2 linked regions of the Homo sapiens genome follow. The protein of the gene in region 2 interacts with the protein of the main gene of each other region in a pairwise test. Each region holds a gene or a part of one and is shown on either strand. Other genes may lie near its edges.

Region 1 (3,012 bases), on a different chromosome or scaffold from region 2:
ATAATTTTTTGTATTTTTTTAGAGATGGGATTTCATCATGTTGCCCAGGGTGGTCTCAAACTCCTGAACTCAGTTGATCTGCCCACCTCAGCCTCCCAAAGTGCTGAGATTACAGGTGTGAGCGACTGTGCCCGGCCTATGATTTAGTTCTTTATCTGGTTGCATGCACAACTTGTAATATAGAGCAGCAAACATTTATGACCATGAGTATAGCTACCCAATGCTAACTCTGCCAGCTGAAAGGTTTGTGGTGTTGGTTGTGGTTGTGATTGTTGATGAGCCATTAACTGATTTATGTTCAGCCTTTCCCTCTGTAATAAGAGGCACTCACCCCACTTTCATTGTTTGTTCCATTTACAGAAAAAAAATTGTTCCATTTGCTCATTTATAAATAAAATTCTCTTTCATTTTTCTGCTAGAAGTCTTCAAAAAGTGAAGAAGAATGCAATTACCCCTTTTGTGGCACTCATTTACAATAAAAGTTTGCACACTCCTTCCCCTGAATGCATTCAGCAGCTTACTCTCACCCCAGCCCTGAACCGCATTCCTCAGTTAACATGTAACTCTCCATACATTCTGTACTTCTCTTGACTAGTAGAATTGGAGGGGTTTATAATGCTGACAGCACGTTAGCTCAGAAACTATGGCAGCAGCCAGGTAAAAGTTGGAAGTTTCCTCCACCACTCTGCTTTCCCAGACATCTGTCAAGAGCGAGGCCTTGCGCAGCGTGTCCATCTCACCCGGAACGTGGTGCTTTTTTAAACGGAGTCCACCTTTACTACATTATTGTTGGTCATCAGTGGAGACGGTTTCCATTTAACCCTATCGGCCACGTCGTTAGAGCTGTCCACAAAGAACACCCTGGCTGTACAGAGCGAGACTATAATTCTCCTGTATTCCTTCCTGAAATTTTGGTTCAGTAGCCCGTATATAATGGCATTGAGGCAGCTGTTGAAATACGCCATGTAGTAACTGGCCACAAACAGCCACTCTGGGATCCTAGGCACCATGCTGGCGGGGTCAGAGGCCACGGCCAGGCCAATGAAGTTCAGAGGAGCCCAGCAAATGGCAAAAAGGACAAAAACCACAAACATGGTGACAAAATTCCTGAAGTCCTGTGGTTTCAGTTTGGGTTTGCGGTCAGGTTTCACCCTCTGTCTGACCTGGAGAACCAGGATCCATATTCTCAGGTAACAGAAGATGACTATGATCATGGGGACGAGGAAGTGGAAAACCACCACGGCGATGGTGTAGGCGGAGCTGACGGACTGGGCGAAGGTGCACGAGTAGATCCTCGGGTCGTACTGGAGAGTCCCTGCACGGAGGTTGGGCAGGACGGCCGCCAGCGTCAGGAGCCATATGAGGAGCACGTAGCAGAGGGAGTTCTTGCTGCTGTACAGTTTGTCGTACTTGAGACTGTGGCAGATGTAGCAGTAGCGGTTGATGGCGATGCCGGTGATGTTGAATATGGAGCCGATGACGCTCAGGCCCATCAGGAACCCACTGACTTGGCAGTGCAGATAGCCCAGGTTCCACCCGTTGTTAAATATCGACATCAGCACCAACGGGTACGGATAAATGGCCACCACCAGGTCTGCCACCGCTAAGCTCACCACAAAGATGTTTCCTGAAAGAGAATCGTTTAGAAAATACAGTGAATACCAGTTCACAGTGGGTTTTCTGTTACAATTGTTAAAGAAGGAGCTGCTTCTGCAGCTCCGATGACCTGACGTCACAGCGGCGGCCGCACTGCAAATGAAGTGGAGGCCGTTTCCCAGGAGGGCCAGTCCACTGCCGCTCCTGACACATCGAATCCGCTGTTCACACATTCCCACCTCCCCAGAACAGGGCCTGTTCCATGTTCAAAACTGCTGTCTTTCAAACCGTTCGGCTTCTCATCTCTTAAAAAGTCCTGAGATCAGAATGCTTGCACACCATCTGTTGTTCTGGAGCCTTCTACATCACCTGAGAAATCTCATATGATGTCAAGCCAGCCACAACTTCCTTAAGTTCAAGTCTTCATTCCCTCTGTAGTGCTTCAGCAGCTCTCAGGGGGCCTCTAGCTTCTGTTCTTGCTGATCCCATAGAGAGGGAGTTAAGGGCAAGAGGGATCTGTCGTCAGCCGTCTGGATGAGAACATGGCTTCACTCCTTACTAACTGTCCAACCGGGGCAAGTTACTTGATCTCCCCAAGCACCTGCCTCCTCCCCTGGATGATGGGATAATGAGCAGCTTCCTCTTAGGGCTGTGGTGAGCACGAGATGAGACTATCTGTGGTGAGCGCCATGTACCGTGTCTTACACCATAGAAATGTTCTTATTCTACGACTCCCTCACCTTGAACCAAAGGAAAATGCAGAAATTCTCTTAGATCTTATAAAGAACTTACGTTACAAAACTTAAACCCTAAATAGTCTGTTAATTTTCTCAATTAATATAACAACACATATTTAATTACAGAAAAAAAAAACTCTAGTCACTTTTTTATTTTTATTTTTTTGAGACAGAGTCTTGTTCTGTCACCCAGTCTGGAGTGCAATGGTCCGACCTTGGCTCACTGCAACCTCCGCCTGCAGGGCTCAAGCAATCCTCCTACCTCAGCCTCCCAAGCAGCAGGGACCACAGGTGCACACCACCACACCCGGCTCGTTTTTGTATTTTTGTAGAGACGGGGTTTTGCCATTTTGTCTAGGCTGCTCTCAAACTCCTGGGCTCCAGCCATCCACTTGCCTCGGCCTCCCAAAGTGCTGGGATGGCAGGTGTGAGCCATTGCTCCCAGCTACATTAGTCAAATATTATGAGATGTTCTGCAAATATGTTTTTTTTCTTTTGCGGCTCTTCTGCCTCTGTTTCTTACTATTCCTTCTGCCTCGAATGGCTCCTCACATCAACTTTCTAAATCCTGCCCATTCTCCCAAGTCTATCTCAAATAGAAATGCCAGAAGCCTTTGCTCATTTGCCCACCTAGTGGTAAGAGCTTCCTCCTTTGAAGGGTCTTAAAGCACTTTATACT
Region 2 (3,953 bases):
GAGGGTGGATCATTTGAGGTCAGGAGTTGGAGACCAGCTTGGCCAACATGGTGAGACCCCATCTCTATTAAAAATACAAAAATTAGCCCAGCGTGGTGGTGCACGCCTGTAATCCCAGGCACCCTGGAGGTTGAGGTAGGAGAATCGCTTGAACCCAGGAGGCGGAGGTTGCAGTGAGCCGAGATCACGCCACTGCGCTCCTGCCTGGGCGACAGAGTGAGACTCCATCTCGGGGGGAAAAAAAAAAAAAAAAAAAAAAAAAATCCCTATTACAAATAAAAGCTGTTGTGATCCAGACTGCATATACCTCTGCGAATGGAACCAGAACCGTGAATTCCAATGCAAATCGATGCATCGGCACCAGACCCGCTGCACTGGATGTATCTGCATTGCAGTCACCCGAGTACGGAGCACATCATAGATGATCTCTGCAGGTTCGTTGCCCACATAGGAGGCATAGCGCAAATTTCAAAGGAACGAATACATCCTGGAGCCCAAACAGCTATCTGGTTCTGCTGCTGGCCTCCTGACAAGTAGGTAAGAGAGTCACATTTTATAGACGACGGACACCAAAACCACACATGAGGAGTACAAGAGTAGCTTTATCATGGATTTAGGGCTGTGGTTACAAGGAAGCTGTAAGGAATAAAATGACTCCCATGAAGACGTACCGTGCGGACGAGTGGAAGGAGAAATTTGGCCATTACAAAGACACAGGAATATGTTAAGAAGTGAGGGGCAGGATGAAATCATCTAGGGTAGGTATTTAGAGGGAGGGCGCCGTGCAAAATAAAATCCTCACTATGAAACAAAGGCGGAGGCAGGAGGCTGCGTTAGGTGGAAGCAGCGGAGGAAGGAGACGAAAGGGATTGTCATTTTCATGTCGTGGCTTTTTAGAAGACAGCCATGTCCTCTACTCTGATTCTATCAAAATGTGTTCTCGGGGTGCTGGTAACGTTCAGCCAACGAAATAATTCCTATGGCGGCAGTAGGAATAACAAAACGCAGAAGCGGGAACGATGTCTTTTTATTCCTCCCCAGACGCAAACGTGGATGCATGAGGTTTGGTAACAGGCAAAGTCATCTGGTTAACGTGACTGATGCAAAAAGTCCAGGCCTGGGCAAAAAGAAGTCACTGGGTGAATGGGATGGATCAGACTCCCTGTCCTGAGGGGGAGATGGTTTCTTGCAGAACGAGGTGAAGGAGGTGGTTCTGCTCAGCAGTCAACAGTGGCCACATCTCCACCTGCAGCGACTTGATGGCTTCCGTGTCCTTTTCGTGGGTAGCCATGACCAAAGACTGGAGCAGCAGAAAGAGCTCCTCGGGAAGCTGGCCGCTGCTCTCCTGCCCGTGGCTGTCAAAAGCCTCCCAGGAGTACTTCTCCAGGGTCTGGGCGTGCTCCGGCAGCAGCTTGGCGGGCGGTGGTTGCAGGAGGAGCAGCAGCAGCACGCGGGACACCTCGCAGCGGACCAGCACGTCCGAGAAGGCGCCCAGGGCGGCGGGAGAGGGCGCCGCCGAGCCGGAGTTCGGAGGAAGCAGCGCGGCCGGTAGGGCGGGCGTCGCCCCGGGCCCGGGCTGGGGTGCCGGCGGCGGGGGCGGCGGCAGTGACTGCACCGGGTGGCTGCCGTGCTCCCGCGCCAGGCGCTGCATGCGCGTGAAGACCGCCAGGGCGCCGGTGTAGTCGCGCGCCAGCAGCTGGCAGGAGGCGGCCTCGCCAAGCGCCTGCAGCGCGGCCAGGGGCAGCTGGGGCAGCTGGAGCTGGGCGGCGCGCTGGAAGTGACCGGCGGCGGCGGCCGGCTGGCCCAGGTCGCGCAGGGCGGCGGCCAGCTCGAGGCAGAGGGCGGCGGCGGCGGCCGGCTGGCCCAGCTCGAGGTGCAGACGCACCGCGGCGCCCAGGGCGCTGGCGGCGGCCTGCAGCGGCTCCCCGTAGGCGGCGGGGCAGACCAGGCGCTGGCGCGCGTCGCGCTCCTGCCGCAGGAAGAGGCGGGCGGCCTCGGTGAGGGCCAGCGCCTCCCCGGGCCCGTGGAAGAGCGCCTGCTGGCAGCGCGCCACCGCCAGCTGGCACCAGGCCGCGTAGGGCAGACACTCCTGGGCGCGCAGCTCCCGGCCCAGCTGTCCGAACTGCTCGCCGGCCTCCGCCACGTTCGGCTTCCGCAGGAACCGCTTCTTCAGCTTGTTCGATACCAGCCGGTAGCGGGCCAGGAAGTCCCCGGCCTCGGGTCCCGGGCCGGCGCCGCCGCCGCCCAGGCCTGCAGCCGCTGCCGCCATGCTCGCCGCCCCAAGCACTTCCCGACGCGCCGCCGCAGCTGGCGGGCGGGCCGGGGCGGGGCGACGTGCCCTGCGTCCCCCTCGGCGGGCTGCCGCCGTGCCCGCGCCGGCTCCCCAGCCCGAGCCTGCCCCTTGCCCTGATGAGGTGCAAAGAGCGGGATCGGAGGCGGGGCCTGGCCGGGCTGTGAGCGGCGTATGCAAATCGAGGGTCTCGGGGATGCGGATCCAAGACCCTGGGAAGGTACGCGGGGCCTGGCGGGGCACCAGCTGCTGCTAGCTCGGCTGCAATGCAAGTGGTCTAGGTTGCTAAAGGCATCCCACAGCCTCTCCATCTGAACATGACCCAAACGAAACTCGTGACCCTAATTCCATGTCTGCGCATTTCTAGACTGTTGTCCCCCCCCCCCCCCGCCCCGACTACTCAGTCCTCCGTCTTCCGGTCCAGGGCCCCTTGCCAAGCACCGGGTCCACCTCTCCGTCCCCACCCCGGTTGCCTTAGAAGTCCGTCCTGTCGCAACACTGCAGTCATGGTCTTGAGGCCCACCCGCCCCAACGAACACCATCATGCTGAGGACTTTCCCGGGCAGGCCCTGACTTGCTCAGAACCAGCGGGGGTGTCCCCTTCCCACCCAGGGCCACTCCCCTGCACTGTCACCCGGAGAGACTGCTCCTCTGTGCCATCCCTGGCTCCCACCCAACCCCAGACCCCCACCACCTCTCCATCCCTCCAGCTGTGGAGGTCTCACAACCCCCCAACCCATCTCACCGCCCCCCCACCCCCACCCCAAGGCAAAGTGACTGAAGCGGGCAGATGGCTTCCTTGAAACATTTTATTGACAGAATTAATGAAGGCCCAAGACTTTGGGGCCTGGGTTGTGGGGGGAGGGTGTTTAAGGCCGGGGGTTCAGGCCGGGGGATTTGGGGCCGGGTGGGTGGACGAGTGGACCTGTCAGGTCCCAGGGGCCGGGTGTCAGAAGCTAGTCCTCGCCAGGGGCCACTTGAGAGATGGTGGTCGTGTTGAAAAGGGTGCTCAGTAGCCTGTCGTTGTGAACCACCATGTCCAGCAGCAGGGGAGTGATGTTCCGCTCTCCGCTGTTCTGGGCCTCGTTGCCCGCCAGCTCCGGGACCTTGGCCGTCAGGTACTCAATAACCGCAGCGAGGTAGACCGGCGCCGTGCGACTCAGGCGCTGAGCGTAGTGGCCCTCCCGTAGACTGCGCTCCACCTGGCTCACTGAAAACGAAAGCTCCGCTCGGACGGTGCGAGAGCAGGTCCGCCCCCGGCCGCCAGCACCGGAGGACCCTCGGCGTCTCCTCCTCCTCGGCATGCTGGGCGTTGAGTGTGCTATCTCGGCTTGGCCCAGCTAGGCAAGATGGCTCTCAAGAGGACAGTTACCGCGTCCAGTACTGTGTATCCTAGCGACCAGGGCCCAGCCCCTCATTGGCTAGGGAGCCGAGACCAATGGGCACGCACATCCGGCGACGGGCACGCATGTGGTGACGGCCCCTCACAAGGGACACACGTCCGTCAGGTGACCTCATCACTTTCCCATTGGCCTCGAGGGAGCAGGCCTGGGCCTAGAAGTGGCTGGAGGGCCGTGGGGGTGGGGTGGGGCGGGGCAGGGGGAATCGCGCTGGTGACCCTCTCTTTGCCAGTGGGAACTTTCCCTTTCTACTGGATGGGAAC

The links. The genes of interacting proteins can lie anywhere in the genome.
Region 1: the proteins of F8A1 (region 2) and MTNR1A interact in a two-hybrid assay, tested with the Homo sapiens proteins (one large-scale study listed by BioGRID).

The regions. Positions count from the first base shown.
Region 1 is NC_000004.12:186,532,931-186,535,942, forward strand, and holds the end of MTNR1A (melatonin receptor type 1A), read right to left. Parts: intron 1,628-3,012; coding exon 759-1,627; 3' UTR 725-758; downstream 1-724.
Region 2 is NC_000023.11:154,884,691-154,888,643, reverse strand, and holds F8A1 (40-kDa huntingtin-associated protein), read right to left. Parts: upstream 2,290-3,953; 5' UTR 2,270-2,289; coding exon 1,154-2,269; 3' UTR 583-1,153; downstream 1-582. Other genes in the region: H2AB1 (histone H2A-Bbd type 1), read right to left, coding at 3,247-3,594.